Regions from separate parts of the Homo sapiens genome. Here regions 1 and 2 are each linked to region 3. Evidence: fine-mapped expression QTL. A gene starts in region 3. Each other region holds a variant in brackets. All regions are shown on one strand. Distances are between the middles of the regions.

Region 1 (10,705 bases), 200 kb before region 3:
AAAGAGATAAGATGAGACACTGGACTAGAGGACATTTAGAAAAAACGGTCTAATAGATCAATGGTTTCCAAATGCCCATCTACACAGACCAGTGTCTTCTATGGAGGATGGCTGTGTGTTTTAAAATTGTAGATTCCCAGTCACTTCCCAGAGAGGATTCTGGTGTAGGCTGGAGATGAACTCCTGGGGTCCCAACTGCCCCAGATGGCTCAATCGAGTTTACAAACTACTTTTTGAGCCCTTGTGCCTCATATCTGGTTACTTCGTTCCATTCTCCGCCAGCCCAGCCTGGTTCATTCCTTCCACAATGGTTGACATCTAATAGCTTTCTAACACATCTCCTGCCTCTCTCTGTCTCTGTCTCTCTCTCTCTCTTTCTTTCTTTTTTTTTTTTAGACGGAGTTTTGCTCTTGTCACCCAGACTGGAGTGCAATGACGTGGTCTCAGCTCACTGTGACTTCCACCTCCCAGGTTCAAGTGATTCTCCTGTCTCAGCTTCCCAAGTAGCTAGGACTGCAGGCACGTGCTACCAGGCCCAGCTAATTTTTGTATTTTTAGTAGAGACGGGGTTTCACCATGTTGGCCCAGCTGGTTTCGAACTCTTGACCTCAAGTGATCTGCCCCCCTCAGCCTCCCAAAATGCTGGGATTACAGGCATGAGCCACCACGGCTGGCCCTCTCTTTTTTTTTCTTTTTTTTTTTTGGCCGGGCGCGGTGGCTCACACCTGTAATCCCAGCACTTTGGGAGGCCAAGGCGGGCGGATCACGAGATCAGGAGATCGAGATCATCCTGGCTAACATGGTGAAACCCCGTCTCTACTAAAAATATGAAAAAATTAGCCGGGCGTGGTGGCGGGCACCTGTAGTCCCAGCTACTTGGGAGGCTGAGGCAGGAGAATGGTGTGAACCTGGGAGGTGGAGCTTGCAGTGAGCCGAGATCACGCCACTGCACTCCAGCCTGGGTGACAGAGCGAGACTCCGTCTCAAAAAAAAAAAAAAAAACTCCATTTAAAAAAGAAAAAAAAGAAAAACAAAGGAAAAAGAGAAAGCAATGTCCAGTGGCTACTAGAGCAGACATGTCTCGTCTGTCTGGCCAGCATCTGTTCCTTTGGAATTTGTCTCCTTTTCTCTGTTGTGCAGAATTCTGGAGGTCAGCCAATCCCAGGTCCCATGAAGGGGGCACATGACCTAAGCTAAGCCATTCAGACTCACCTGGGCATTTGAATTTTGAACAGAGATTCAGGGATGGGAAGTTTGAAGTTGAATCATGAGTTAATCCCCAGGAGATCCCCTCTTGCCTGGTCAGATTTTCCTTCAATTCTATAAACTCCCCAATATCCTTCCTTCAGATGGCTTTTTTTTTCCTGTTAACTCAGAATTCGTTCTTATCTCCTGAAACTGCAGAGCCCTGATATACTTCTCCATTGTCCATAGCATGAAGCTTACAAAGTTCTCACCCTATATTACAGATTCTCCCCATTCTGTTTATGTCTCACATGACGGCTCTGCCCTAACTAAGCTTTAAGCCCCTATGTGATCTTCTGTGAGCCAGCAATTAGACAGTCTGCATTTTATAAGCAAGGAGGATATATAACTCATGTCTATAAGGCCTTGAGGTCCTGTGCTAGATGGCATGCTATGTTTTGATCAGATTTAATTGAGAACTAGCTCTGATATTTTATTTATGTATTTATTTATTTATTGTAGAGATGCGTAGTCTTGCCATCTTGCCCAGGCTGGTCTTGAACTCCTGGGCTCAAGCAATCCTCCCACTTCAGCCTCCCAAAGTGCTGGGATTATAGGTGTGAGGCCCCATGCCTGGCCCTACATATTCTAAAATAAGAAAAGGTGTTCTGCTATTTAGAAATGACTGCCAAATCATCATTCTTTTCTTGGGTTTGTGCTACTGTCCAACGAGCGCATAGTGAGGGCAGTACTGCTAACACATACCAAAAAAAAAAAAGCAAAAATAAACATAAAAAACAGAAGTACTTTCCAGAGACTAGGATTACAGACAACCTGGATATAAACTAAGTTCTGGAGGTATTTTAAAAAGAGTATTCTAAAGAGTATATTCTAGGCCAGGCACGGTGGATCACACCTGTAATCCCAGCACTTTGGGAGGCCGAGGTGGATGGAACTCCTGAGGTCAGGAGTTTGAGGCCAGCCTGGCCAACATGGTGAAACCCCATCTCTACTAAAAATATATAAACTAGCCAGATGTGGTGGTGCATGCCTGTAATTCCAGTTACTTGGGAGGCTGAGGTGAGACAATCACTTAAACCTGGGAGGCAGAGGTTGCAGTGAGCCAAGATCACGCCACTGCATTCCAGCCTGGACAACAGAGCAAGACTTCGTCTCAAAAAAAAAATAAATAAATAACTTTAAAAAGAGCATATCCTATTCCTTTGGTTGGAAATTAGATTTGGAAGTTTAAGATAGAGGGCCCAAACAAACTAGCCCACTGACTCTTAATGAGGCCAAATCCCTCTGGGTTGTTGTATCCTGGGAATTTAAATCAAGTGGAATATATGTATACATTCTGCAAAAGGAAAGGAGTGCAAATTCGTAACAACACAAATAAAATTAAGAAACAAGGTTGTTTCCAGATAGATGGCAAGGCTATTAGTGGATTTTCTTTCCCTTCCTTATCTGCCCTGCTCGCTCGGCCAATGTTATTAGCTCCAGTCACCAATTAGCCATTGCTATCTGGGGCCGCATTCACCAGAGTTTTTTTATTCCCTGATAATGGAGAGAGGTAATGAGTGAGGTAATTTCTCCTTCAAGAATGATGCAATGAGCAAGACTGTGTTGGAGTCCAATAAACTCGGGTTTATATCCTGCTCTGGCACTTGTTGGTAGATTAACTTCGGGCAAGTTATTTCCTCTCTCTAAGTCTCAGTTTTTTTAATCTATAGAATGAGGACAATAATGCTGGCCCCATCCTCAAGATTCTGATTCCTTTGGTCCATGGTGGCTTGAATCCTTGGAATTTTGTTTACAGTGCCCAATGTGTTGTTGTGAAGATTAAATGTATAAAAAACTCTAGAATAGTGCCTGGCACTGAGTCGAGGCTCAATCATTATTCCTTTCCCTTCTCCTTTGGTGCCCTCTTCTCTGGCACCATCTGTCCATTTCTACCCCAGACCTCTGATCACATTATCTGCAGGTATACCTATATGTCTGTGTACATGAAAACACATAATTTAATACATAAGCATGCTATGTCCATTTCCACTTATTTGTTCAACAACTAGTTATTAAGAATTCATCCGTGCCAGGCACTGTGACAAACCAGTTAGACAAGTTCCCTGTTCTCATGGAACTTGCTTCCTAGTGGGGAGTATTGTAGGTGATAATGATAGGGAGGGACAGGAAGGGAAAGGAGTGCCACGTGGACTAGGCAGGTGAGGGAAAGCTCTCTGAAGAGGGGACCTCTGAGACCTGTAGGATGAGGAGGAGCCAGCCATGAACTAGGCTGGGGAAGAGCACCAACCACAGGGCACAGCAAGTGCAAAGGCTCTAGGGCAGGACCAGCTTGGTGAGTGTGAGGAACAGGAAGGTGCTAGTGGTGGCCGGGTGCGGTGACTCACATCTATAATCCCAGCACTTTGGGAAGCCAAGGCAGGTGGATCACCTGAGGTCAGGAGTTCAAGACCAGCCTGGCCAACATGGTGAAACCCCATCTCACTAAAAAATATAAAAATCTGCCGGGTGCAGTGGCTCACACCTGTAATCCCAGCACTTTGGGAGGCAGAGGTGGGTGGATCACGAGGTCAGGAGTTCGAGACCAGCCTGGCCAATGTGGTGAAACCCCATCTCTACTAAAAATACAAAAATTAGCCAGATGTGGTGATGCGTGCCTGTAGTCCCAGCTACTTGGGAGGTTGAGGCAGGAGAATGGCGTGAACCGGGAAGGCAGAGCTTACAGTGAGCGGAGATCGCACCACTGCACTCCAGCCTGGGCAACAGAGCGAGACTGTGTCTCAAAAACAAAACAAAACAAACAAACAAACAAAAAAACATTAGCCAGGTGTGGTGGCAGGCGCCTGTAATCCCAGCTACTCGGGAGGCTGAAGCAGGAGGATTGCTTGA[A/G]CCTGGGAGGTGGAGGTTGCAGTGAGCCGAGATCGTGCCACTGCACTGCAGGCTGAACGACAAGAACAAAACCCCGAATCAACAACAACAACAAAAAAGGAAGATTCTAGTGGTGTCAGGGCTGAGAGGAAGGTAGGGGAAGAGCCAGATCCCAGAGCGTCCTACTGCCCCTGGTGAGGAGTTGGGATTGAAATGGGACATACTGGAGATACTGAAGTGGGAAAGGGATGGGATCTGATTTATGTTTTGTTTTGTTTTGTTTTGTTTGAGTTGGAGTCTCGCTCTGTCACCCAGGCTGGAATGCAGTGGCACGATCTTGGCTTACTGCAACCTCTGCGTCCCAGGTTCAAGCGATTCTCCCATCTCAGCCTCCTGAGTAGCTGGGACCACATGTGTAATTTTTGTATTTTTAGTAGAGATGGGGTTTCATCATGTTGGCCAGGCTGGTCTCAAACTCCTGGGCTCAAGTGATCTGCCCGACTCAGCCTCCCAAAGTGCTGGGATTACAGGCATGAGCCACCATGCCCAGCCGGTTTATGTTTAAAGGCCTCATTCTGGTTGCTGTGTTTCAAAGGGTAAATGGCAAGGGGCCAGGATGGAAGCAAGTTCAAGTGATTACAACACATACTTCATACCAGACATGCAGACACTTGGAGATAGAAGGAGCTCTGGTCCAGAGACATGGGAATGCCTTGGGAACACTGGTCCTCATCCACCTCTGCACAATGCAGGCACCTAGGGCACTGTTAACAAAATTCCAGCCACTGTGAACCAATGGAATCAGAATCTTGTAGATGGGGACCAGGCTAACAGTATCTTTACAAAACTCTTGGGATATTTTATGGGCGTCCAGGTGGAAAACCATAGTATCTGGGTAAATTCTTCAGGGCCCAAGCTCTGGCTGCTGCCTCAGACACCTTTCCAGCATGAAACATTTGTTACTACAACATCCTTTCCTAGAATGGGCTGAAATCGGCCTCTGGGGTACCTTCCCTGCACACACACTCCTGTGGGGCCAGCCTTTCCTTCCACCCCTACCATCACCCAAGGCAAACCTTGGCCAAGGGGACTGAGGGAACCCGGACTCAGGGAACATGAATGGGGAAGGGAGGAGCTGCCAGGCTTCTGGGCATGCCGTCTGCCCCGCTGCCTGGCCGTCTGCCAGGCTGGTACCCAGGAAGACTGGCGTGTGCTGCTCAGAGAGTACAGCCTCACAGCAGCAGCCGCCATGTCCCCAGGAGGTGAACTGCTGTCTTCTCCCACCCAGTCTACTCACATTGCCAGAGAATTTTAGAACTTCAGAGACTTTAGCATAAATAGTTTCATTCTAATTTAACCATGGGTTGTCGGGGGAGGGAGCCAGACACTAAATATAGCCAGTCTTGTATTTCTGGGGCACTCCTGGAAGCTTGAGAAGGGGGAAGGGAACTTGGTCGCCTACATTCTGGCAGGCTCTGTGCTATACAATTTACAGTCCTCGCAAAAGAGCTATGAAACAGATGTTGTTATTCTCACTTGGAGATTAGGGAACTGAGGTTCAAAGAGGTAAAGTAACTTGACCAAGGTCACACAGTTAGTCAGTGCTGAGGCCCCATGGAAACCGAGGTTGGCTTCACACCAAAGCTCATGCTCGGTCCATGGATGCATCTGTAGCTGCCCTGTGCTTCCTCTTGGTGTCTTTCCCCAGAATCTTCCTCCAACACCAGGAGTATCAGCATCCCTCTTTTCCGTGTTAGCCCATTGGAGGCCAGGAGGGTCGCTAGCCCAGATCCCGAAACCCTGTGACTCCTTGCTGGCCCATCACTCTGTTTCCTTCTCCTCACACCCACCCATGCCTTCTACCATGGCCAAGCCTCTTCCAGCCCTTTTCTCCTCTTCTCTCCCATTTTTCCTGCAAACCCAGGCCAGAGCACGAAGCAACCCTAAAATACTAAGAAATAGCCAAACATGTAGGTTTAAAGGTTGTCCATTAGCAGGGCGCAGTGGCTGACGCCTATAATTCCAGCATTTTGGGAGGCCGAGGCGGGCGGATCACCTGAGGTCAGGAATTCGAGACCAGTCTGGCCAACATGGTGAAACCCCGTCTCTACTAAAAATACAAAAATTAGCCAGACGTGGTGGTGTGTGCCTGTAGTCCTGACTACTTGGGAGGCTGAGGCAGGAGAATTGCTTGAGCCTGGGAGGCAGAGGTTGCAGTGAGCCAAGATCACGCCACTGCACTCCAGCCTGGGCGACAGGGCAAGACTCCGTCACCACATTAAAAAAAAAAAAAAAAAAAAAAAAAGGTCCATTTAGGTTGCCTGTTTTGATGTAGGAGTGAAGAAGGGAAGCCATCACTCCCCTGTGCCTTGATATGCTGATGACTGCTTTGCCTGCGTTCCTCTGATTTTGTGTGCTGACTCCTCAACACTGAGAAATTTCCCAACTCCCGCAGGCCTACAGAGATATCTCCTTCACAGGCTGTGCCCACAGGATAAGCATTTACCTAGGAAACAGACTTATCCCATAATAATCTCTTGCTGTTGCATATGGGTATATTAAAACTAACCCCCTCCTAGCACTTTGGGAGGCCAAGGTGGGAGGATTGCTTGAGTCCAGGAATTTGAGACCAGCCTGGGCAACACAGTGAGACCTCATTCCTATAAAATTTTTTTTTAATTAAAAAAACACTAACTCCTACCACCACCCACTCCCGCTAAACTAAAGGGTTATGTTTATACCCTTATGTGTATGTGTGTTATGTTCATGTGTGTTCCCCACTTACCCAACACTTCCGTTTTGAATGTGTTCTTGTTGACTAGATGATTGGCTGACCCTGTAGTATATAGGGACCCCTCAATTCATATCTGAAAGGTGGCACCACAGGGACTGTGGAATGTCCTTATCTCAGGTGCTCTGCCAGGCCCTCTAGGGATCTTAGTTAGTCCTCACAACAAACCTAGACAGCATTACTCCCATTTCACAGCTAAGGAAATTCAAGATCAGAAAGGATGTCACTTGCTCCAAGGTAAGACAGGGAGTAGAGAGCAGAAATGGGATTCCAGTCCGCGGTGCTCTGGTCCGCAAGACCCGCGGCATCTGAGACGCCTCATGTGCCTCATCTCTACCAGACTCGAGATGCCCCAAGGTGGAGACCAGGCTTGGGTTCCCCATGGGCCTTAGCACAGAGCCCTACATAGGGCAGTTGTATGGTAAATGTTTGCTCAGTAAATTGTCAGAGGAAGTTTACACTGATTACCAATTGTGTGAGAACCAGCACTGGGGAAAGAGGAAGTGTTTGCACAGTGATAAGGCCTATGTGCCTGATGGTACACCCCATGCCCTGGGCCAGTGGTGAGAGTGGGAGGTGGGCAGCAGAGGGGGGCAGTGCGAGACGCCTGCCCTAACAGGGCTAAGGGAAGAACTGTGGTGCCCAAGAGACCCTGGATATAGTGGAGGATAGGAGGGACATCCTGAGGGTTGACTGATTGCCAGCTCCCCGGCATCAAGACCTTCAGGTTCTTCCACTAGAAGGAGCAACAGAGACACAGGGGAGTGAGAGGGAGGCAGCCTCTCAATGGACACAGGGTCACCTGGGGGCTGTGGGGGAAGCCAGCCAGAGTGGCTGTGTGTGAGGAGAGGACTCTGAATGGGGATGCTGGGCCAGGCGGCATTTGGGTTTGGGAGACCCTGGGAACAGAGGTAGCATTTGAGAGAGCTTCTCAGGAAGGTGGAGGAGGAATGTGGCCTGATTCATCACCTCTGAGAAAAGGACATTTTCTCGGAAGGCCCAGACCAAGAATGCAACAGAAAGGCATAGTTTGAAGGGATCAGATAAAACTTTTTTTTTTTTTTGAGATGGCATCTCGCTCTGTCACCCAGGCTGGAGTGCAGTGGTGTGATCCCAGCTCACTGCAACCTCCACCTCCTGGGTTCAAGCGATTCTCCCACCTCAGCCTCCGCAGTAGCTGGCACCACAGGTGCACACCACCACACTCAGCTAATTTTTGTATTTATAGTAGAGAAGGAGTTTCACCATGTTGCCCAGGCTGGTCTTGAACTCCTGACCTGCCTGCCTCAAGTGATCTGCCTGCCTCGGCCTCCCAAAGTGCTGGGATTATAGGCGCGAGCCACCACGCCCCGCCCAGAAAAGATGGAACTTGATGTAAGGAAGCTATGTGATGGGAGGTTTAGGGAGTTGGTTCAAGGGGATGGTGGGCCTGATGACCACAGGGGGAATGTCTTCGGGGTCAAGTAGAAATGCAGAATAGCCATAAAGTTGGGGCCCAAGCTGATATTTCACGTCCCTGCCTTGCCCTTCACTGGCTATAGGACTTCGAGCAAGTTACTTAACCTGTCTGACCCTCAATTTCCCTATAAATGAAATGGGAGATAATAATATTACATGACTTATACCCTTGTTATAAGGATGAAATGAGATAAAGCTTGACCTGAGTTTGGCGCAGGGCCTGGAAGAAAAAAAGGTCCAAACAACATTAATAATAATTAATGATGGTGGAAAGATCAGCATATGTTCCTGGAAGAGAGGGATCCAGAAATATAGTTAATAATAATATTAATAATAATAGCCACCTATAATAATAATAAATGCCTATAATCCCAGCACTTTGGGAGGCTGAGGTGGGTGGATCATGAGGTCAAGAGTTTGAGACCAGCCTGGCCAATACAGTGAAACCTCATCTCTACGAAAAATAGAAAAATTAGCCAGGTATGGAGGCACACACCTGTAGTCCCAGCTACTTGGGAGGCTGGGGCAGGAGAATGGCTTGAACCCAGGAGGCAGAGTTTGCAGTGAGCCAAGATCACACCACTGCACTCCAGCGTGGGTGACAGAGTGAGACTCTGTCTCAAAAATAATGATAATAATAACAATAGTTTTTTTAAAAATAAGCCATTGCCAGCCTGTTCTGTTTCATGACAGCTTACATTTACTAAGTGTATACCATGTGATAGATACTGTTCTAAGAAGTTGGGAAGAGTGGAAATTATTCCAGCACTGTAATGCCAGCACTTGGGAGGCTGAAGCAGGAGAATCACTTGAGCCCAGGAGTTTGAGACCTGCCTGGCCAACACAGTGAGACCTCGTCTCTACAAAAATCTCTAAAAATTAGCCAGGTATGGTGATGTGCACCTGTAGTCCCAGCTGCTTGGGAGGCTGAGGATCTCTTGAGCCTGGGAAGTCAAGTCTACAGTGAACTATGATCACACCACTGCACTCCAGCCTGCATGACAGAGCGATACCCTGTCTCAAAAAAAAAAAAAAGACATTGTTCTAAGCACTTTACATGCTTTATTTCATTTAATCCTCCCCACAAACTTATGAAGTAGGCACTATAATTATCTTCATTTACATGAGGAAGCAGAGATGCAGAGAGTCCAGGTAACTATCCTGAAGTCACGCAGTTAATGGATAGTAGAGCTTGGATTTGGTTGTGTCTTTGTCCATTTTGTGTTGCCATAACAAAACGCCACAGACTGGATAATTCATAATGAATAGAAATGTATTTGACTTACAATTATGGAGGCTGGGAAGTCCAAGAGCATGGCCCCAGCCTCTAGCAAGGGTCTTCATGCTGCGTCATCTCATGGTGGAAGGCAGAATGGCAAGAGAGGGTGAGAGCAAGAGACACAGAGGGCCAAACTCATTTTTATAACAACCCACTCTCACAATACCAGTCTTACTCCTATGATAATGACATTAATCTACTCATTAGGGCAGAGCTCTCATGGCCCAATCACCTCTTAACAATTCCATCTCTTAACACCGTCATCGTAGTGGCAATTACATTTCAACATGAGTTTTGGAGGGGACATTCAAACCATAGAATTCTACCCCTGGCCACACAAACCTCATGTCCTTCTTACATACAAGATGCATTCACTCCATCCCAATTGTCCCAAAAGTCTTAACTCATTCTAGCACCAACTCAAAAGTCCAAAGTTTCATCTGAATTAGATAGGGGCGAGATTCAAGGTATAATTCATCCCAAAGCACATTCCTCTCCAGTTGAGAGCCTGTGAAATTAACAAGTTTATGTACTTCTAAAATACAATAGTGGGTAGGCATAGGATAGACGTTCCCATTCCAAAAGGGAGAAATTTAAGAAGAAATGTGTAATTGGTCCCAAGTAAATCCAAGACCCAACAAGGAAAAAGGGAAAACAACATTAAGTCTTTTTTCTTTCCCTCTCTTTTTGAGACAGAGTCTTACTCTGTCACCCAGGCTGGAGTGCAGTGGCAAAATCATGGCTCACTGCAGCCTTGACATCCCAGCCTCGGCAATCCCCCACCACAGCCCCCTGAGTAGTTGAGACCACAGGAATGCAACATCACACCTAGCTAATTTTTTTTTTTTTTTTTTTTTTTTTTTTTTTTTTTGCAGATATAGAGTCTCTCTGTGTTGCCCAGGCTGGTCTCCAACTCCTGGGCTCAAGTGATCCTCCACCTCAGCCTCCCAAAGTGCTGGGATTACAGGCATGAGCCACTGCACCTGGCCATAACATTAAGTCTTAAAGCTCCAGAATAATCTTCTTTGACTCCATGTCCCACCCTTCTAGGCACACTGGGGTGGGGATTGGGCCCTATGGCTTCACTGGCCTCAGTTTAACCA
Region 2 (10,705 bases), 23 kb before region 3:
GGGAGGTGAAGTCAATGAAAATGTCACAGAAAAGCTGTTTTCTTAAGAAAAGTTTTTACTTTTGAGAGACCAGGTCTCACTCTGTTGCCCAAGCTGGAGTGCAGTGGTGCAATCATAGCTCACTGTAGCCTTGATCTCCTGGGCACAAGCAATCTTCCTGCCTCAGCCTCCCAAGTAACTCGGACTACAGACACGCACCACCATGCCTGGCTAATTTTTTCCTTTTTTTTTTTTGTAGAGATGGGGGCCTCACTATGTTGCCCAGGCTGGTCCTGAACTTCTGGCCTCAAGCAATCCCCTTGCATTGGCTTCCCAAACCCCCGGCACTACAGGCATGAGCCACTGCACACAGCCAGAAAAGTCTTACAGAATAGTGGGAAACTAGGCTGGGCAAGGTGGCTCACACCTGTAATGCCAGCACTTTGGGAGGCCGTGGTGGGTGGTTCACCTGAGGTCGGGAGTTCGAGACCAGCCTGACAAGCATGGAAAAACCCCATCTCTACTAAAAATAGAAAATTAGCCGGGCGTGGTGGTGCATGCCTATAATCCCAGCTACTCAGGAGGCTGAGGCAGGAGAATGGCTTGAACCTGGGAGGCGGAGGTTGCATTGAGCCAAGATTGCACCATTGTACTCCAGCCTGGGCAACAAGAGTGAAACTCTGTCTCAAAAAAAAAAAGAAAAAAAGAATAGTGGGAAAGTGCTGAGTACAGAAGAGGGGAGAAGGGCATTCTAGACAGAGGAATACATATCAGAGACTTGAGATACATCCTATGTTTAGGGAACTATCAATAGATATGGCTCAAATTAAGATCTACAGTTGATCCTTGGATAACTTGGGTCTGAACTGCGCAGGTACACTTAAATGCAGATTTTCTTTCACCTCTGCCATTCCTGAGACAGCAAGACCAACCTTTCCTCTTCTTCCTCCTCCTTAGCCTATTCAATGTGAAAATGATGAGGGTGAAGACCTTTATGATGATTCATTTCCACTTAATGAATAATAAATATATTTTCTGTTTCTTATGATTTTCTTAACATTTTCTTTTTCTTTCTTTCTTTCTTTCTTTCTTTTTTTTTTTTTTTTGCGATGCCCAGGCTGGAGTGCAATGGCACAATCTCAGCTCACTGCAACCTCCACCTCCCGGGTTAAAGCGATTCTCCTACCTCAGCCTCCCAAGTAGCTGGGATTACAGGCGCACACCACCATGCCCCGGCTAATTTTTGTATTTTTAGTAGAGATGGGGTCTCACCATGTTGGCCAAGCTGGTATTGAACTCCTGACCTCAAATGATCCACCTGCCTTGGCCTCCCAAAGTGCTGGGATTACAGGCATGAGCCACTACGCCTGGCCAACATTTTCTTTTCTCTAGCTTACTTAATTGTAAGAATACAGTGTGTAATATATACAACACACAAAATATGTGTTAATCAACTGTTTATATTATTGGTAATGCTTCTGATCAACGTTAGGCTATTGGTAGTTAAGATTTGGGGAAATCAGGCCAGGTGCAGTGGCTCACGCCTGTAATCCCAGCATTTTGGGAGGCCAAGGCGGGCGGATCATTTGAGGTCTGGAGTTCAAGACCAGCCTGGCCAACATGATGAGACCCCGTCTCTACTAAAAATTAAAAAATTAGCCAGGCATGATGGTATGTGCCTGTAATCCCAGCTACTTGGGAGGCTGAGGCATGAGAATTGCTTGAACCCGGAAGGTGGAGGTTGCAGTGATCCAAGATCACTGCACTGCACTCCAGCCTGAGTGACACAGTAAGACTCCGTCTCAAAAAAAAAAAAAAAAAAATTGGGGGGAAATCAGAAGTTATACTTGGATCTTTGACTGGATGGGAGTTGGCTAGATGGGTTGTCAAGGTCAAATCATAAAATAATTTAGCATATTCTACTAAGTAGTTTGCATTTTATCCTATAGGCAGCCAGTGAAAACTTTTAAGCAGGAGAGTAAGGTCCATTTTAGATTGCATTCCAAATATGATTACTTTACATATATGTTTTGGTAAAGGTTTGGAAAGCTACTGCTGGGCTGTGGCATTGGAGGTATTAGAGAGAACTATTACTTTTTATTTTGATTACTTATATGTTTCTTTTTTTATAGCAAATATCATTTATTTTGTCTTTATTGTCTTTTTCCTCTCCTTTCCTGTTTTCTATTATAGTTTTCTGTATTTCTCTTTTTTTTTTTGCTCTACTCGTTTAGAAGTTATATATTCCATTTATATCCTTTTAGAGATTAGCCTTAACTTTTAGCATGCATACTTATCAAAGTTTAAAAGTAATTCACTTCTCTATCCTCTTCCTAACTGTACCAAAATCTTACAAACTGTTCATCTCCCATCACCCTCCTCCCATCTTCCATGTTGCTGTCTAGTACTTTAATTCCACCTTGTTTTTAATTCCCTGGTGGTCATTTATTTTATAGTCAATCTTTATTTAGATTAAAAAAAGTGTTCACCAGAGTCTTTGTTCACCATTGCCTCTTGCATCCTACTTATTCTGTGTTCTTTTGGGTTTTTTTTTTTTTTTTTTTTTTTTTTTTTTACTGAAGTAAATCTCTTACAAGATCTTTTATCCACAAACAGATCTTGAGACAAAAAATACAAAAATATAAAAATAAATAGAAGTTATTTTAGTAAGAGTCCGTGGGCCAGGCATGGTGGCTCATGCCTGTAATCCCAGCACTTTGGGAGGCCAAGGCGGGCAGATCACCTGAGGTCAGGAGTTTTGAGACCAGCCTGGCCAACGTGGTGAAACCCTGTCTCTACCAAAAATACAAAAATTAGCTGGGCATGGTGGCAGGTACTTGTAATTCCAGCTACTCGGGAGGCTGAGGCAGGAGAATCACTTGAACCCGGGAGGCGGAAGTTGCAATGAGCTGAGATCACGCCATTGCACCCCAGCCTGGGTGACAAGAGTGAAACTCTGTCTCAAAAAAAAAAAAGTCCGTGAATGATAAGCTGTCTTTTAAAGTATCTTTATTTTGTCTTCATACTTGCATGATTATCTAGCTAAAAACAGAATTTCACATTGCCAGTTATCCCCCCCGCATTTTGAAAATATTTCACTACTTTTGACTTTCTATTTTATTTTATTTTATTTCATTTTTTGAGACAGAGTCTCACTCTGTTACCCAGGCTGGAGTGCAATGGGATGATCTCAGCTCACTGCAACCTCCGCCTCCCAGGTTCAAGCGATTCTCCTGCCTAAGCCTACAAAGTAGCTGGGATTACAGGTGCCCACCACCACACCCAGCTAATTTTTGTATCTTTAGCAGAGATGGGGTTTCACCATGTTGGCCAGGCTGGTCTCAAACTCCTGACCTCAGGTGATCTGCCTGCCGTGGCCTCCCAAAGTGCTGGGATTACAGGTGTGAGCCACTGCACCCAGCCTGACTTTCTGTTTTAGCCATTGAAGTCCTTAGTCAATCCAATTATTACTCTGTAGGTAATCTGATTTTCCCTCTGGTTGCTTTTACGATGGTTCACTTTGTCTTTGGTGTTCTGCAATTTCCCTATGATGTATCTTTGTATGGATTTATTTTCATTTCCTTCTGGAGATTCACTATGCTTCTTCAGTTTGGAAAGTATGCAGTCATTATCACCTCAAACGTTTCTTTCCCATTCTCTCTCTTGTCTCTTGGAAATTTTGTCAGATATCTACTGGGCCTTATCTTTCTACTCTGCATGCCTCTTCAACTCTCTTCCATATTTCCCATTGCTTTCTCTCTGTGATACATTCTGTGAAATCTCCTCACTTATCTTCCAGTGAACTAAAGTATCTCTTCATCTTCTGTTTAATTATGTGTTTAGCTTATCCACTGAGTTTTTTATTTCAGTGACTAAATTTTTTATTTCAATGGCTATATTTTTTATTTCCAGAAGTTGTGTTTTTTTCCCCAAATCTCACTCTTCCTTTTTTATGGTGTCCTGCTTTTTTCATGATTGTTCCTTCTCCTTTATCAGTAGCTTTCTTGATTTGGAGCACAGGCAAATCCACACCCACCTCATCTAGAAGTCTGAAGTGCTTTAGTAATATCTAAAATAGTAAAATCTAAAATTAGAGGATAGATGTAGTAGATAAATTGGGGGATGGATTTATGTGGGAAGATTTGAGTCAGGGAGAGCAGCTGACGGGTTATTGCAGTGGTTAAGGTAAGAGAAGATGAGGATTGGACTGAGTCAGTAGCAGAGGGAGTAGAGAGGAGTGACATATCTGAGACAGAATTTGGGAGGCAGAAGCAAGAGGACTTGGTGAGCAATCAAACGTGAAAGGAATAAAGGAGAAAACAAAAGCAACAGTGATTCTGAGGGTTGTAGCATGGATGGCTGGAAGGATGGTGGTGCCATTGACAGAGAAGGGACACAGATGAGGAGGAACAAACCTGCCTAGGAGTTCCATCGTGAAGGTGGGTTTAGACACAGTGAATGTGCCTGCAGGTGGAATGCCCAGTGGATAGGCACACTTAAAAGATCTGGTACTTGGAAAATAAATCTGGGCTGTACATATCTATCTGAGAGTTAACAGTATATATATATTGATAGTATCAGAAGCTGGAGAAGGGCCTTGAGGAAGTGAGGTTGTCCAGGGAGAATATGGAGAGTGAAAAGGAAGAGACAAAAGAGTGGAGCCTGTGGAACATCAGCATCCAGGGTGCGTATGCTTTGGAAAAGGTCTGGAAAGCTCTGCTGAAAAGAGGAAATTCTAAGGATGGCTGAAAATACTTGGTTAGAGAGGGAGGAGGAAAACCAGGAAAAAGCAATATTGCCAAAACTAAGGAAAGTTTTAAGCAAGGAGGGAATGGTCAATAACGGCTATGAAGTAGAGCCTGAAACGCTGGACTTGACTGTCATGAGGACATTAGTTGTCTTGTGGAATCATTTCCTGGGGATGAGGTGGGGCAGAAGATAAGAGTGCAGTGAGTCAGGAGTGCGTGAAGCAGGAGGAAGTGAAGCTAAGTAGACAACTCTTTCAGGAACTTTGGCTACACACAGAAGAAGAGAGATGGGGTGAGAGCTAAAGGTTAGAAGTGGTTGGGAAGTGTGGGGTGGGATTCAAGGCTGAGGAAAGGTGTTTGTTTGCTTTAAGACAAAAAAGACGTAAGCAGGTTTGCAGGCCAAGGGGGAAACATTCAAGAGGAAGAGCAGCTGTCAGTCAGCTCTTGGGTCATCTTGGCTTTGCCCTTTCCAGAATCGCCTTTGGATCAGACAGATCCAAAGATTTGCTCTGCTTCCAGCAAAGCTCTTTCCTCCCCACAGACATGCTTTCTCTAAGACCCCTGCTCCAAATTGTCCTAAATCCAAAAGATAGGATCTGTTAGAGTCTTTTATTGTAATTCAATCCCTAATATGTAACCAGAAAATTATAAGAAAAACTTTTCCTGAAGGAACTTAAAAGACTACTGTTAAGGAGTTTGCTTCAAATGGAAACAAACCTCTGGTTTCATAAAATCTTGATTATCCTATGTCAGGCTGATCAGGAGAGACTTTGTGTGATTCTGGAAGAAGCTGGAACAGTTTTGGTGTTTTGAGGAGGTAGCTATTTGAATCCTAGCAGTTGAAAGATCATTAATACATCCTTCTATAAAGCTCTATCTTCTAGCCTGGTGAGGAGGTGGAGGCTGCAGTGAGCTGAGATCGCGCCATGGCACTCCAGCCTGGGCAACAACGAGACTACGTCTCAAAAAATTAAAAATAATAAATAAATACGGCCAGGTGCAGTGGCTCACAACTGTAATCCCAGCACTTTGGGAGGCCGAGGCAGGCGGATCATCTGAGGTCGGGAGTTCGAGACCAGCCTGACCAACATGGAGAAACCCTGTCTCTACTAAAGATACAAAATTAGCCAGGCGTGGTGGTGCATGATTGTAATCCCAGCTACTCAGGAGGCTGAGGCAGGAGAATCGCTTGAACCCAGAAGGCAGAGGTTGCGGTGAGCCAAGATCGTGCCATTGCACTCCAGCCTGGGCAACAAGAGTGAAACTCCATCTCAAAATAAGTAACTAACTAACTAAATAAATAAATAAAAAATAAAATAAAAATATTAAATTATCCAGCATTAAACAGACCATTGGAATATAAAATGGACTGAGATGAGACCCATCACCCCTTCACTAAGCTTACAAACAGATGTTTTACCATCCCAGATGTACAAACACAAGAATGTTTGCTCTCCATCCACACTAAGCTTTGTCAGTGGATTGAGTCTTATGAGACCATCTTTCTGTTTAGGTTTGTTTGGGAAAACATGTGATTTTTAAATTATATGTAATATAGTATCTACTACCTAGCTCTTGATAACTGTGCCCATTTATAGGCATGGCAGACTAGAGTATAGATGAAGGAGGGAAGAGAATTTCCTGAGTCTGGTTTTAAAAGAAAAGGTACCATGTTGTAATCTTAGGAGCAGATTTACACATAGCCTTTTCCAGGAGTAAAGAAATGATTTTCTTATAAAGAAATCATTAAATGTGCAACAGGTTTTTTTCTTTTTACCTCCAGAGGTTAAACAAATTGGTAGCATGAAATAGTGTCTGCTTTAAATTTCTTTAAGCTTCTTTTGTAAATATTAATATCCACAGGGATATAACTATTGAAAAGGTTACCCCAGGGACAGAGACATGCAAGGGAGGAGAAATTTCTCAACAAAGGGCCTCAGAAAATAAACTTTCTGACCTGAAGGGAATTGTCCCCAAAAAGCCCGTGGGAACTAAAGTGACTGTTTACTTATGTTTATGATATTTAAGCAAGTGTTATACTGAGCAGTGGTTGTGTTGATGGTTGTTGTGTATTTATTCTCAGTTTGTGTGTAATATTACGCTTGTTCTGGCTAAGATTACACACACAAACAGACAGCCTTTTAGTGAGAAGCCTTCCTGATGTTTTGAATTGGTTGAATCATCAAGGCTACTCTCACCAGCTACATAACCTCATTAGTTGAGAAGCTATCTCTGGAGGAAGTCTCAGTAGCTAAATATATTCTGTGTTCAATAAGAGTTCTATTCAGTTGCTTGGTTTTTTCATATTCAAAGTGCCTTACAACAAATAAATTTGTACCCAAGTGCTGTATTGCTGGAACTCTTTCTTTCAGGAGGCATGATTTAAAGAAGAAAATTGAGATATTTTGTAAACTATCAAAGGGCAAGTAAAACATAACCGTAGATTAAAGCCGATTTTCCTTTTGCTTTGCAGGAATTTATCCGAGAACAACTGGAGGTAAGCTTTTCCTTTATTTTGGGGTTTCACACAGAAGCACCACACATAAAAGGCTTCGTTGTTCC[G/A]TTTTCTTTTCCTGTTAATAACGTGTTTATGCATTAGCTACTCCAGACCACCGGAGGCATCCAAGGGACATTGCCACTGACTGTCCAGAAGGTGTTGGCATCCCAAGCCTGCCATGGTAAGCCCTTCAACATAGCAGTGATCAAACACCTCTGCATGCAGAGCCCTGGCAGGGCTGCCGGGATTACAAAAGAGGCAGAGGGTACATTTACTACTTGACTCTTGGAGAATACAATTTAGATCAAGAAACTGAATATACCCTTTTAAAAATCACTTTTACAAAAACAAAATCCCAACACAAAAATTTGACTATAGTGCTGCCTGACCTATATGAGTGGAGGAATAACTCCTAGAGGAGATGCATTTTGAGATGAATTTTGAATGAGCTGGGGAACATGGGTTCATAGCATGGAAAGGGGAATTCACTATAGGGAGAGTAAACAGCCTGTGCAGAGAGGCAGAACAGAAACAAGTTAGTTATATGAGAAGCAGCAAAGAGTATCAAGAAACTAGGCAGGTAAGAGAACAGAAACCTAGAAGGTCACAGCAAAACCTTTGGATTTGATACAGAAGGCATTAGAATTAGCAAGCGTTCTTTTTTTATCTTTCCAACTTTCATTTTAGGTTCAGGGGGTACATGTGCACTTTGTAACATGGGTGAGTTGCATGTCGCAGGGGTTTGGTGTACAGATTATTTTGTCACCCAGGTAATGAGCATAGTACCCAATAGGTAGTTCTGATCCTCACCCACCTCCCACCCTCCACCCTCAAGTAGGCCCAGGTGTCTGTTACCCCTTCTTTGTTTCTATGTGTATTCAATGTTTGGCTCCCACTTTTAAGTAAGAACATGCAGTATTTGGTTTTCTAATTCACTTAGGATGATGGCCTCTAGCTCTATGTTTTTGCAAAGGATGTGATCTCGTTCTTTTTTATGGCGACATAGTATTCCATGATGTATATGTACCACATTTTCTTTATCCAATCCACCATTGATGAGCATTGAGGTTGATTCCATGTCTTTGCTATTGTAAATAGTGCTGCAGTGAGCATAACACATGCATGTGTCTTTATGGTAGAATGATTTCTGTTTCTTTGGGCATATTCCCAGTAATAGGATTACTGGGTTGAATGGTAGTTTTGCTTTAAGTTCTTTAAGAAATCTCTAAACTGTTTTCCACAGTGGCTGAACTAATTTATATTTCCCACCAGCAGTGTATAAGTGTTCTGTTTTCTTTGCAGCCTCACCAGCATCTGTTATTTTTTAACTTTTTAATACCAGCCATTCTGACTGGTGTGAGATGGTATGTCACTGTGATTTTGATTTGCATTTCTCTAATGATTAGTGACATTGAACATTTTTTATATGCTTGTTGGCCATGTGTATGTCTTCTTTTGAGAAGTGTGTGTTCATGTCCTTTGCCCATTTTTTAATAGGGTTTTTTGGTTTTTGCTTGTTAATTTATTTAAGTTCCTTATAGATTCTGGATATTAGTTCCTTATATAGATTCTGGATATTAGACCTCTGTTGGATGCAGTTTGCAAATATTTTCTCCCATTCTGTAAGTTGTCCGTCTATTCTGTTGATAGTTTCTTTTGCTGTGGAGAAGCTCTTTAGTTTAATTAAGTCTCACTTGTCAATTTTCGTTTTATTGCAGTTGCTTTTAGAGTCTTTACCAGGAAATCTTTGCCAAGGCCTACGTCCAGAATGGTATTTCTGAGGTTTTCTTCTAGGGTTTTTGTAAAAAGATGGAATGCGCCCAGGCGCGGTTGCTTACGCCTGTAATCCCAGCACTTTGGGAGACCAAGGCGGATGGATCACCTGAGGTCAGGAGTTCGAGACCAGCCTGGCCAACATGGTGAAACCCCATCTCTACTAAAAACATAAAAATTAGCCAGGCGTGGTGGCGGGCACCTGTAATCCCAGCTACTCAGGAGGCTGAGGCAGGAGAATCACTTGAAACCAGGAGGTAGAGGTTGCAGTGAGCCAATATCACGCCACTGCACTCCAGCCTGGGTGACAGAGTGAGACTCCATCTCAAAATAATAATAATAATAATAATAATAATGAAGATGGAATGCTTCATGAATTTGCATGTCATCCTTGTGCACGGACCATGCTAATCTTCTCCGTATCACTCCAATTTTATTATATGTGCTGCCAAAGCGAACACCATTGAGGGTTCTTGAGCAGGGTAATATGATACAATATAGAAAATGGGGAGCTGGGTGAGGCCCTGTGAGGAAGGTGCCTGCTTCTCCTTCACCTTCCGCCATAATTGTAAGTTTTCTGAGGCCTCCCCAGCCATGCAGAACTGTGAGTCATTTAAATGGTCTTTCCTTTATAAATGACCGAGTCTTGGTCATTTCTTCATGGCAGTGTGAGAACAGACTCATACTCCTCTATCACCAAATGTCATCATTGCCACCTTCAAAATGTATCTTCGGTCCGTCTGATTCAGTCTGTCTGGCTCCTCCCTCATTTTTGCCACTGTTGAGCTCTCTTACTTAGTTCTTCACATCCACTCTGGCTCCCTTTCAAGCTGCTCTTCTCTCAGCACCCAGAGGAATCTTTTTGAAACATCCCTCCAAGCATGTTGTTCTTCTAACTAAAATGTGTCAATGATGACCCATTGCTCTTGGGATAGAAATGTGATTTTTTACTGTGGCCCACAAGGGTCTTCGTGATTTGGCCCCTGCCTGCCTCTCCAGTGTCACGTCATATCACTCTCCACCTTGTTCTTTACATCCCAGCCTGCTTTTTTGGTCTTCTGCTTCCTGTGTGCTAAACATTTGTCAGCGTCGGGGCCTCTGCACTGGCCTTCTCCTCTACCTGAAACACTTTTCTCTCCTTCTTCAATTAGCCACGTCTTTCTTAACCTAAAGTCTCAGCTTGAATACTACTTTGCCAGGAAAGCCTTCCTTAAGCTCCTAAACTGGGTTTGGTCTTCCTATTATATATTCATATCCTGTATTTTATAGCACCTATATTTATCATTTAAATTATTGTATAATTATCTGCTTCATGTTTGTCTCCCCTATTAGACCATAAGCGCCATGAGGATGGAAATTATCTGTCTCACTAACTGCCTGACAAAGCTCCCAATACAAAGTATATACTTAATAAATATTTGTTGACTGGGTAAATTGTGCATAAAGGCAGGTTATAACAATATGAGAGTTTAGATTAGGAAGATTATTATGGAAATTAGAAAAAAAGAAGCAAATAAAATGAACATTGTAAGGAAACAATCAGAGATTGCTATTGGACGATCCATGGAGAAAGATAACCCCAACTTCACAAACCCATAAAGAGTAGGCAAAAATACTGCTCTTGCCTCTTGGAGAAAAACTCTGAAAGCCAGATCCTAACAAGTTAAGGAATGCCTCCTACAGAGATTAGAAATACAAATACTCCGTA
Region 3 (10,705 bases):
AAGCAAATAGCTTCTATCACTGATGAAATGGCTCTTCACTTAGTCCTTGCTTGTATTCAGGTTACAAAGGACAGGCCCTGCAACAATAACAAAACTGATTCTATGATCCTACTTTCAACCTGCTTGGCATTTTCAGAAATGGTCAGGCGACAGGGAGTGGTGGCAATCGTAAGCAAAGGACCTTTCCCAACTACATATTGTCCTTACAATCTTGACTTCCTAAAGTTGACAGCTGAGAACTCTCAACTGTTTTACTGAATCAAGACTTCTGTGGTTCTTTCCAGCCTCCACTGGGTGTAATCCATTGAGTAAATGCAGATAAATGGAGGCCCTGGAGTGAGGTGGTTGAAGTCCCAGAGTTCAAGCCTACCCTTTGGCTTCCTTCTTTTCTGCTGGCTTCTAGCTAGAGACAGACACACTTACCTGTGGAGAAAGTTTGAACATAGGTGCACAGACGATGAGTGGGGTGGAATGGTGTTTTGCTGCCAGTGCCAGAGTGTGAGTTCCTGTCACAGCTCTCAGGGCCCCATTGGCCAGGATGGTCTTCGTGCCAATGATCACCTTTGGGACAAGACAAAAAATGTGAGCCATCCTGGGGGTGGAGCCCTAAAAGGGCCACTGGCCACAAAAAGCTAAATGCTTAGACCTCAGAATTGGTATCGTGAGGGGTCACAGACTGGTAGAGGTGAAGGGATCCCTGGCTCAATACAAGTTCTAGCTTAAAAGTAGGTTTCCAAGGAAAGAATGAATGTAAAATGGGACAAGAAACTGCAAAACCTACTGCTCTCAGTCCCATATTTTCTGGAAATTGAGATGCCATACCTTCTGAGAAGCCAGGAATCTTTTTCATTCACTATCCACAACTGCCAAGCTCTTTGAGCATAAGGCAGGAGCCCTGTAGCCAATCCCTAGAAACTGACACTCTTGCCTTAGTTCTATTTAATACTTCATTCTTTTCAATGCTTCAACCAAATTTAGAGGCTACTCCAAGAGAGGAACAATGATGCAGAAAAAAGGGAAAAGAAATTCAGTTAACAGATTAAAAAGGCCTAAGTATGTACTTTGAAAGGTGCTAGAAACTTTATTCTCTCACCGTGGATATTACAGGAGGAGATAAAAATCAATATTTTAGAAACATAATCTTCATGAATTCAACATAACTCCAGATATACCCACCTTGTTGACTCTTGACATAACGGCAAAAATGGCAGCATCAGTCATGACAGTTGTCTCAATACCTGCTTTGGACAAATTCACAGCCATTTCATGACCCTGCAATGGGAGGGAAAGGCTGATTCTAAGAGAAAGAGTGAGAAATAGTGAAAAGTGCTCTCAAATGTAACTGGATCTGGGGAATTGTGTGATATGGGCATATCCAGCACATAATTTCCAATAGATAACTCATTTTTCGGACAACTGATTTTTCAGACTCTCATAGCTCTGGTAAGCTGTAGGGAAGCCCAGGGGAAGCTAATAAATGTCTAATGCTCCACAGCAGCACCAGAGCAGCCATAAAACTGGAAATACAACATGCATGTATAATATAATCACGATTGCTGACAAGATAGCTCCTGGCTCATTATTTTAAAACAACCTGCATCCTTACATATTTCCTTTTTGAGACCTATTATTTACTTAGGATCAAGTGAGGTCAGACCAAGCATTAGTCATCCCCAAGGTAATTTACCCTGCTTTGATTCCTAAAAGAATCAAGTTATCTTTCCTTGAACCCAGCAGCTCGCCATCTTTTTTTTTTTTTTTGAGACAGAGTCTTGCTCTGTCGTCCAGGCTGGAGTGCAGTGGCGCTATCTTGGCTCATTGCAACCTCTGCCTTCCAGGTTCAAGCAATTCTCCTGCCTCACCCTCCAGAGTAGCTGGGATTACAGGCATGTGCCACCACGCCCAGCTAATTTTTGTATTTTTAGTGGAGACGGGGTTTTGTCATGTTGGCCAGGCTGCTCTCGAACTCCTGACCTCAGGTAATCCACCCGCCCAGCCTCCCAAAGTGCTGGGATTACAGGCATGAGCCATCGCTCCCGGCCCCAACTTTCTTAAACCACTATTTATGAATGTTCACAGGACGAACACCTTGAAAATTCACTTAATGTTTTACTTGATCTTCTCAGTGTCTCAAAGTCTTGCTTATCAATTCAAGGTTGGAATGGCCCTACCCATCTCTCGTTTATTTCTTCTTCATTTTTCATTTTTCTTAGTAGCAACTCCAGCAGTCTCCTTACCTGGCAGAAAGGAGCACACTCTGCTACAATGACATGGAATTTCCTCTTTCGGGCAGCCTCTTTGAGGAAGGCCTCTACTGTTCGGGAGAAGCCAATGGTCATGATCACCTCATTGGAGTGAATGTGCTCCAGAGCCTGGGCTGCAATGTTCTCCATTGTCCCTTCTGTAAGAACGGTTTTGCAAAAAAAAAAAAAAAAAAAAAAAAAAAAATATATATATATATATATATATATGAAATTGCTATATCACAAACACACATTACGCGTATACGGAAAAAGATGTCTGCCCTTCACATGCACTGCCCACCTAGCAGACCCTGGTACCACAGGGTTAATGTGCTTAAAGTGAAATGTCACAATTTCTTTTTTTTTAATAGAGACAGGGTCCCACTATGTTGCCCAGGCTGGTTTTGAACTCCTGGTCTCAAGCAATCCACTCACCTTGGCCTCCCAAAGTTGTGGGATTACAGGTGTGAGCCACCATGCCCAGCTATGTCACAATTTCTTAAAAGCCCCACTCCTCTGGGATTTTCTGCCTGCCCTCTTCCAGAAGTACCCCTACCTATGAACCACCTCTGTCACTACAGAGCTCCTTACAACTGATTTTGAAGACAGTAGATTCAGCCAAGGAATGGCAATCTGGGAAATCCTAAAGTGCTGAGAATAGGGTAAAGAGAGCTTCGGCCTAAAAGAAGTCTTCCTCCAAAAGGTGGCCACAACACTTCTACATGAGAGAGACTGGCCAGAGAAGAAAAAATGGGGGAGCAATTTGGAAGCAGCTTCTTCATCCTCTGATTACAATGAATATCTGCAAGTCACTTGGACCGCAATGACAAGGGGGATAGAAATGGTATACGTGTACGTGTGTATAAAAATTCAGATAGTGAAGGAGGTCTATCGACCTTGGCTCTCTAGGGAGTTCATTTTGTTTCTTTACAATGAAAATAAAACTCTGTCCTAATAGAGTCTGTTCCACTCCACAGATCTGTAGTCTATCAAGGGTTGGTCTGTAAGGAAAAGTAGAGAGGATTACTTTGGTCCTGTCACCTGTTGCAACATTTCCTAATCAGGAAGGAGGACAAACCTCTGAGAACCAGAAGACAGCTAATCTCCCATCTCTGCTAATGAACAACCTTCAGAGGCTTCTGTTCCCTTATGTGCCTGTGACCAGTCCCATTTTCCCAGCGATCAGGCCTCTTACCCAGCTCCACTAGCAGCTCATTAATCGCCTCAATGATGTTGGACTGGAGTTGGGCATAATGGAAGCTGAAATCCTCGTTTAGGCCTCCGGATGTCAACAGTTTGTGCAGGGACTCCTGCTGATCACTCTCGTCGCTGCGTCCATGGAGTCTATAGAGGCAACAAGACCCAAAGAGAGAGGTGGGGAGGAGTGGTCAGGCAGGTAACAAGGGCTGTTCAGCTCCAATAAAGTCTCCGAGCAGGTAGAGGGGCCCGTGCAAAAAGTGTCACTGGATCCAACCAGGAGCCCAGGACGTGAGCCTGACCTGCCATACTCCTCCCGGATAATCTTGAGCACTCTCCGCACCATGTTGCCCACGGTGGTCTCGGAGGGCTGAGCGGCCGTCATCCTCCTGCCCTCTCTGCGGATCAGCTCCATCAGCTCCCCTACAGTCCAAAAGAGAGAGGATAAGAGGAGCCAACGCGAAGTGAGGCCTGGGAAATTTTCAGCCCTGGGATCGGGAACAGACAGGGGCCAGGTTCGCCGGCGGAGGCAGGCCGGCCTCACCCGCGTTGCTCCAGCGGTGGTCCGTGATGATCTGGCGCAGCAACCCTAGGGTCTCCCGAGCCATTTCCTCGGAGCTGCGCGGCCCACCACCCCGCTTCAGGGTCTCCACGAAGCTCTCGATCCTCTCTGACAACTCCGAGCCCTTCGCTGCGGATCCCGGCATCTTTAAGGTAGCTGCCTTCAGCCTTCACCGGCGGAATCCACACCTGCCAGACCACACAGTTTGCACTTCCGGGGCGGGCGAGGTCGGCTTCCGCTGTGAGGGGATGGGGGGAAACCTCAAGTTTGAGTGGAAGCCGGCTACGCCCTTCGTTGCCGATCTCCCGCCCCCTTCCTCTGCCTGAGCCAATCAGAGACGTGGGGCTCGGGTTGTTCAGTTATAACCGGGCGTCCGCGCGCCCCCGCGCCTCGGGGGCTGGAGGATCGGAAGCGGCCTTTCTTGGCTCAGCCGACGGTGAACGGAAGTAACCCGTCAGGCCTGTAGAGGGTGGCTGGTCCCGTTGCTATGGGAGCAGCAAGTCTCTACGCGCCCCTCACCGCGACTTAAGGCTACACTGAAGAAGTTGCGGCACTCCCTCCTGTCTTCCCAGCTCGGTGACTGCCCGAGCTGTCACTCCCGAGTGTCAGCTGACACTGACGCTCTGAATGCATGTCCAGGGTCGGCTGCCCCTTGGGCAGACGTCTCACTTTTGTTCTGTTACATTGCTTGGTACCGTTTGCGCCTGTGTCTAGGAGGTTCATGTCTCTGAAAACAAGGACGATATCTTTTGTTGCTTTTGTATTCTCAAGGCCTAACACGTCTAACAGAAGACGGCGAAATTAGAGATGAGGAAGATTAAGGAGATTCAAAGTGGGAGCCAATACAGAAGCAAAGATGACATCCTCTGATTTGGACAGAATTGTCCTCCTACAGAGAGGCCAGAGAGTATAACATAATACCAAGAGTTACCATTTACTTAAAGCTTACTGGTTCTTGGGCACTGTGTGTGAATTGTCTCAGTTAATAAGGTCTGAAATAGGTCCTCTTATCCCCATTTTACAGATTGGGAAACAGACCCACAGAATTTAAGCAGTTAATAAAGGATTGGGTTCATACTTAAATCCAGGTCTACCTGAACCCAAAGTATGTGTGTAATAGAAATCTCTATTTCCTTAAGATAAATTCTTCAAAGTGGAATCCATAGGCGAGCACATTTTAGACTTTTGTTACAATTAACAAATTGCCCTCCAAAAAGATTATGTCAATACCAAAGTTAGCCAAAGGTAGTACAAAGAAAAGAAAATTACAGATTAATATCTCTCATGAACATAGAAGCAAAAATTGCAACAAATTATTAGCACATCAAATCCTGCAATACATAAAAAAAGAATAATATGTAATTACAAAGTGAAACATAAACCTGGAATGCAAAGCTGATTAAACACTTAAAAATCAATGTAATATGCCATATTAACAATCTGAGAAGTAAAACCACATGATCATGTCAATTGATGCAGGAAGAAACATTTGACAAAATTCAATATTCATGGTACAAACTCTCAGAAAACTAGAACAAAAGGGAACTTCCTGAACTCGATAAAGGGTATCTACAAAATCCTACACCTAAAAATCATACTTCACAGTAAAAGATTGCTTTCTCCCTAAGATCAGGACAAGGCAAGGATGTCTACTTTCACCACTCCTATTTAAATTATACGTGAAGTCCTAGCCCTTGCAATAAGGCAAGAAAAAGAAAAAGCATACAGAATGGAAAGAAACTGTCCCTGTTCACAGAAGACATGATAGTGTACACAGAAAATCCCAGAGTCAACAGCAACAAAAACAAAACCTCCTAGAACATAAGTTTAGCAAGGATACAAAAACTATATTTCTATGTATTAGCAATGAGCATCAGAAATTGAAGTTGAAAATACAGTTGCTCTAAAAAGCCATAAAATATGTGTCAATTTTGCTGTGTTTTAGTTTTTATTTATTGATTTGTTTGTTTATTTTGAGACAGGGTCTCACACTGTTGCCCAGGCTGGAGTGCAGTGGCATGCTCACTGCTCACTGCAGCCTCAACCTCCCCTGGCTCAAATAATCCTCCCACCTCAGCCTTTTGAGTAGCTGGGACTACAGGCACACACCACCATGCCTGGCTAATTGTGTGTTAATTTTTAAATGTCTTTAAAATTGTATCAATTTACATGCTGGCTAGCATTTACCATATTATAGCCAATTTTGGATATTGTCGTTATTTTTTCATATATCAAGTCATTAAGAAAATAAGGTATATAGGCCAGGCATAGTGGCTCATGCCTGTAATCCCAGCACTTGGGGAGGCCAAGGTGGGCAGATCACCTGAAAGTCAGGAGTTTGGGACCAGCCTGGCCAACGTGGGTAAACCCTGTCTCTACTGAAAATACAAAAATTAGTGGGGGGTGGTGGCATATGTCTGTAGTCCCAGCTACTAGGGAGGCTGAGGCAGGAGAATAGCTTGAACCTGGGAGGTGGAGGTTGCAGTGAGCTGAGATTGTGTCACTGCACTCCAGCCTGGGTGACAGAGCAAGACTGTGTCTCAAAAACAAACAACAACAACAGCAACAAAAAAAACAAGGTATATAGTATTTTATATATACTAAAGAATTTATATGTGTGTGTATGCAAGTTATAAAGCATGACGACAAACAGGTTGAGGAATGTGAACCAATCCCTCACTTTGAAACTAAAATATTCGAATTAATAGAGATAGAAAGCAAAGCTGTGTTGGCCAGGCACAGTAGCTCACACCCGAATCCCAGCACTTTGGGAGGACAAGGTGGGAGGATGGCTTGAGCCCAAGAGTTGAAACCAGCCCTGGCAACATATCAAGACCCCCAGCTGTACAAAAAATTTAAAAATTAGCTAGGTGTGGTAATGCATGTCTGTAGTCCCAACTACTTGGGAGGCTGAGGGGGGAGGATCTCTTGAGCCTGGGAGGTCGAGGCTGCAGTGAGCTATGTATGATCCTGCAGTGAGCTATGATCCTGCCACTGCACCCCAGCTTGGGCAGCAGGGCAAGACCCTGTCTCAAAAAAGATAAAGGAAAGAAAGAAAGTAGAACTGTGATTGCCAGGGTCTGAGGGGAGGGAGAGAGTTGCTGTTTAATGGCTACAGAGTTTTAGTTTTGCAAGTTGAGAAGAGTTCTAGAGATAGATGGTGGATAATGGTTGTGCATTTATTTATTTATTTATTTATTTATTTTTTGAGACAGGGTCTCACTCTGTCACCCAGGCTGGAGTGCAGTGGCACGATCTCAGCTCACTGCAAGCTCCGCCTCCCAGGTTCACGCCATTCTCCTGCCTCAGCCTCCCCAGTAGCTGGGACTACAGGTGCCTGCCACCACGCCCGGCTAATTTTTTTGTATTTTTAGTAGAGACGGGGTTTCACCATGTTAGCCAGGATGGTCTCTATCTGACCTCGTGATCCGCCTGCCTCGGCCTCCCAAAGTGCTGGGATTACAGGCGTGAGCCACTGCACCCGGCCTGGTTGTGCATTTATATTTCACAACAATGTGAATGTACTTCATGCCAGTTTAGTTTCACTAAACTGTACACTTAAAAAGGTTAAGATGGTAAAATTTATGTTCCGTGTTATTTTACAATTTAGGAAATATGTGGTATATTTCACTTTTTTCTGCTCAATATGACATTCATAAAATTTATCCATGTTGTTACATGTACTTGTTATTCTCTTATTTGCACTGGTGAATTTGTACTGGTAAGAACTTGTAGTTCTCTTATTTGCACTAATATTTCATGTGACTGTAGCATAATTTATGTATTCATTTTTTTCAACAGATATTTGGGTTGTTTCCAATCTTTTTAGGGGGGTGGGTGAACATAAACTATAAATAGTCCTGTGTATGTCTTGGCACTTATATAAGTGGAACAGCTAGATCAGAGGCTATACGAATGTTCAACTTTACAAATAGATCTAGTAGTACAAAGTGGTTCAATTAATGTATGCTCCCTCCAGCAATATTTAAAGACTTTCAGCTGACCTACATCCTTACTGACATGTGTTATTACCAAACATCTTATTATTTGGGAATCAGGTAGGTATAAAAGTATATTTTACTGTGGTCTTAATTTGCATTTTCCTGATTACTGTTCATATTTTCATGTGTTTGTTGGCCATGAGTTTTTTGTGAATTGTTTGTTGTGCCTTTTACCTACTGTTTTTGGCTTAAAAATTTTTCCAAGTAGATTTGTAAGAGTTCTTTTTATATTCTAGATACTAATCTTCTTTCAATTATTTATTATATAAATAAGTGTCTTCTCCCAATTATGGCTTGTCTTCTTTACTTTGAGATGTCTTTGAACAGAATTCTTGATTTTAATGTGTTAAAATGTATCAACCTTGTCTTTTTTACATAATGCCTTTTCTGTCTTATTTCAGAAATTCAGCCAAGTGCAGTGGATTTGCCAGGTGTTGGGATTACATACCTATAATCCCAACAATTTGGGAGGCCAAGGTAGGAGGATCACTTGAAGCGAGGAGTTCTAGACAAGTCTGGGAAAAATAGCATGATGCCATCTCTACAAGAAATTTTTTAAATTAGCCAAGTACAGTGGCAGCTACTATGTGCCTGTAGTGCCAGCTACTTGGGAGGCAGAGGTGAGAGGTTTGCTTGAGCCTAGGAGTTTGAATTTGCAGTGAGCTGTGATAGCACCACTGCAATCCAGCCTAAGCAACAGAGTGAGACTTCAACTCAAAAAAATAAAAAAATTTAAAAATCCATCCAGGTGCAGTGGCTCACGCCTGTAATCCCAATACTTTGGGAGGCCAAGGTGGGAAGATCACTTGAGCTCCAAAGCTTGAGACCAACCTGGGTAACAGAGCAAGACCTTGTCTCTACAAAAAAAAATTTTTTTTTAATTAGCCAGGAATGGTGGCTCACACCTCTGGTCCCAGCTACTTGGGATGCTGAAGTGGGAGGATCTCTTGAGCCTGGGAAGTCAAGGCTGAAGTGAGCCGTGATCATACTACTGCTCTCCAGCCTGAGTGGCAGAGTGAGTCCTTGTCTGAAAACAAACAAACAAACAAACAAAAAAACAGAAGACATTCTTCCCTAATCCACAATTATAAATATAATCTCCTATATTTTCTTCTGATTACTAAAACATTTATCTTTACATATAATTGGAATTGGAATTACATATAATTTGGAATTGCTTTTTATGTAAGGTGAGAGGTGTGAATCCAATTTTATTTTTCCATTCTTTCTCCAGTGATTTTTAATGTCACCACTGTCATATGTCAAGTTTCTATAATATGTGAGTCTGTTTGGTGGCTATTTGGTTTCATTGCTGAATTTGCCTATTTCTGAATCAATATGATATTATCTTAACAATTGTCTTTTTTTTTTTTTTTTTTAAGATAGGGCCTCACTCTATTGCCCAGGCTGGAGTGCAGTGGCGCCATCACAGCTCACTGAAGCCTTGACCTCCCAGGCTCAGGTGATTGATCCTCCCACCTCAGCCTCCCCAGTAATTGGGATTTACAGACACAAGCCTTTTGTATTTTTTGTAGAGATTAGGTTTTGCCAGGTTGCCCAGGCTGGTCTTGAACTTCTGGGATCAAGCTATCCACCCCCCTTGGCCTCCCAAAATGCTGGGATTATAGGCATGAGCCACTGCACCCAGCAACTATTGTTTTATTGAAAAGTTTTTATCTCTGGTAAGAAATTTTTTCTTGCTTAATTCTTTTCTTTAAAAATTACTTAACTAGTTTTGAGCCTTTGCATTTTTATTTTATATTTTATTTTATTATTATTATTGTATTTATTTATTTATTTTTTGAGACAGAGTCTTGATCTGTCGCCAGGCTGGAGTGCAGTGGCGTGATCTTGGCTCACTGCAGCCTCCGACTCCCTGGTTCAAGCAATTCTCCTGCCTCAGCCTCCCGAGTAGCTGGGATTACAGGCATGTGCCACCGCACCCAGCTAATTTTTGTATTTTTAGTAGAGATGGGGTTTCACCATGTTGGCCAGGATGGTCTTCATCTCCTGACCTCATGATCTGCCCTCCTTGGCCTCCCAAAGTGCTGGGATTACAGGTGTGAGCCACTGCACCTGGCCTATTTTTTATTATTATTATTTTTTGAGATGGAGTCTCACTCTCTTGCCCAGGCTGGAGTGCAATGGCAAAATCGCAGTATGATCCATCCACTCCAGCCTCCCAAAGTGCTGGAATTACAGGCGTGAGCCACCATGCCTGGCCAATATTTTATTTTATTTTCTAGTGACAGGGTCTCATTCTGTTGCTCAAGCTGGAATGCAATGGTGCAATCTTGGCTCACTACAGCCTTGACCTCCTGGGCTCAAGCAATCCTCCTGCCTCAGCCTCCCATGTAGCTGGGACTCTAGGTGTGTGCCACCATGCCCAGCGAATTTTTTTATTTTTTGTAGAGACAAGGTTTCACTATGTTTCTGGGCTGGTCTTGAACTCCTGGCCTCAAGTGATCCTGTCTCAGCCTCCCAAAATACTTGGATTACAGGCATGGGCTAGTGGCTCAGCCACTTCCATATATATTTTAGAAACAGCATTGCTGAAACGTATTTAAATTAAAAACTTTATTGATATTTTGGTTGGAATTGCTTTAAATCTATTAATCAATTTGAAGAGAATTGACAACTTTAAGACAATAAGATACCAAGTCTTTCCATGAACATGGTATATATTTCCATTTATTTAGGTT

Direction of the effects. Positions count from the first base shown, and alleles are read on the strand shown. Sizes are in standard deviations (SD) of each study's normalised expression. Not every link is listed here.
For the expression in putamen of the gene that starts at base 4,217 in region 3, A is the high allele of the variant in region 1 and G is the other (small effect, 0.39 SD a copy in GTEx).

What was found. PIP is the estimated chance that this variant, and not a neighbour inherited with it, causes the effect.
Region 1: its variant is the best candidate, but not a certain one, in a credible set for the expression of EIF2B2 in putamen (GTEx, PIP 0.55).
Region 2: its variant is the best candidate, but not a certain one, in a credible set for the expression of EIF2B2 in whole blood (INTERVAL, PIP 0.88).

Annotation. Positions count from the first base shown.
Region 1 is chr14:75,193,345-75,204,049 of GRCh38, reverse strand. It overlaps the pseudogene RNU4ATAC14P. Among named protein-coding and RNA genes, the nearest start is that of TMED10, 22 kb to the right of the region's middle. The variant A/G (reference allele first, on the strand shown) is at 4,096.
Region 2 is chr14:75,019,514-75,030,218 of GRCh38, reverse strand. It overlaps MLH3 (mutL homolog 3), which reads left to right. Exons shown (of 13, transcript NM_001040108.2): 10 at 7,201-7,224; 11 at 7,327-7,405. It also overlaps the pseudogene RNU6-689P. Among named protein-coding and RNA genes, the nearest start is that of EIF2B2, 22 kb to the right of the region's middle. The variant G/A (reference allele first, on the strand shown) is at 7,290.
Region 3 is chr14:74,996,433-75,007,137 of GRCh38, reverse strand. It overlaps EIF2B2 (eukaryotic translation initiation factor 2B subunit beta), which reads right to left and starts at 4,217. Exons shown (of 8, transcript NM_014239.4): 1 at 3,985-4,217; 2 at 3,743-3,863; 3 at 3,439-3,587; 4 at 2,238-2,401; 5 at 1,177-1,272; 6 at 424-561. The coding sequence starts at 4,147. RefSeq lists enhancers at 3,859-4,539, 4,581-4,670.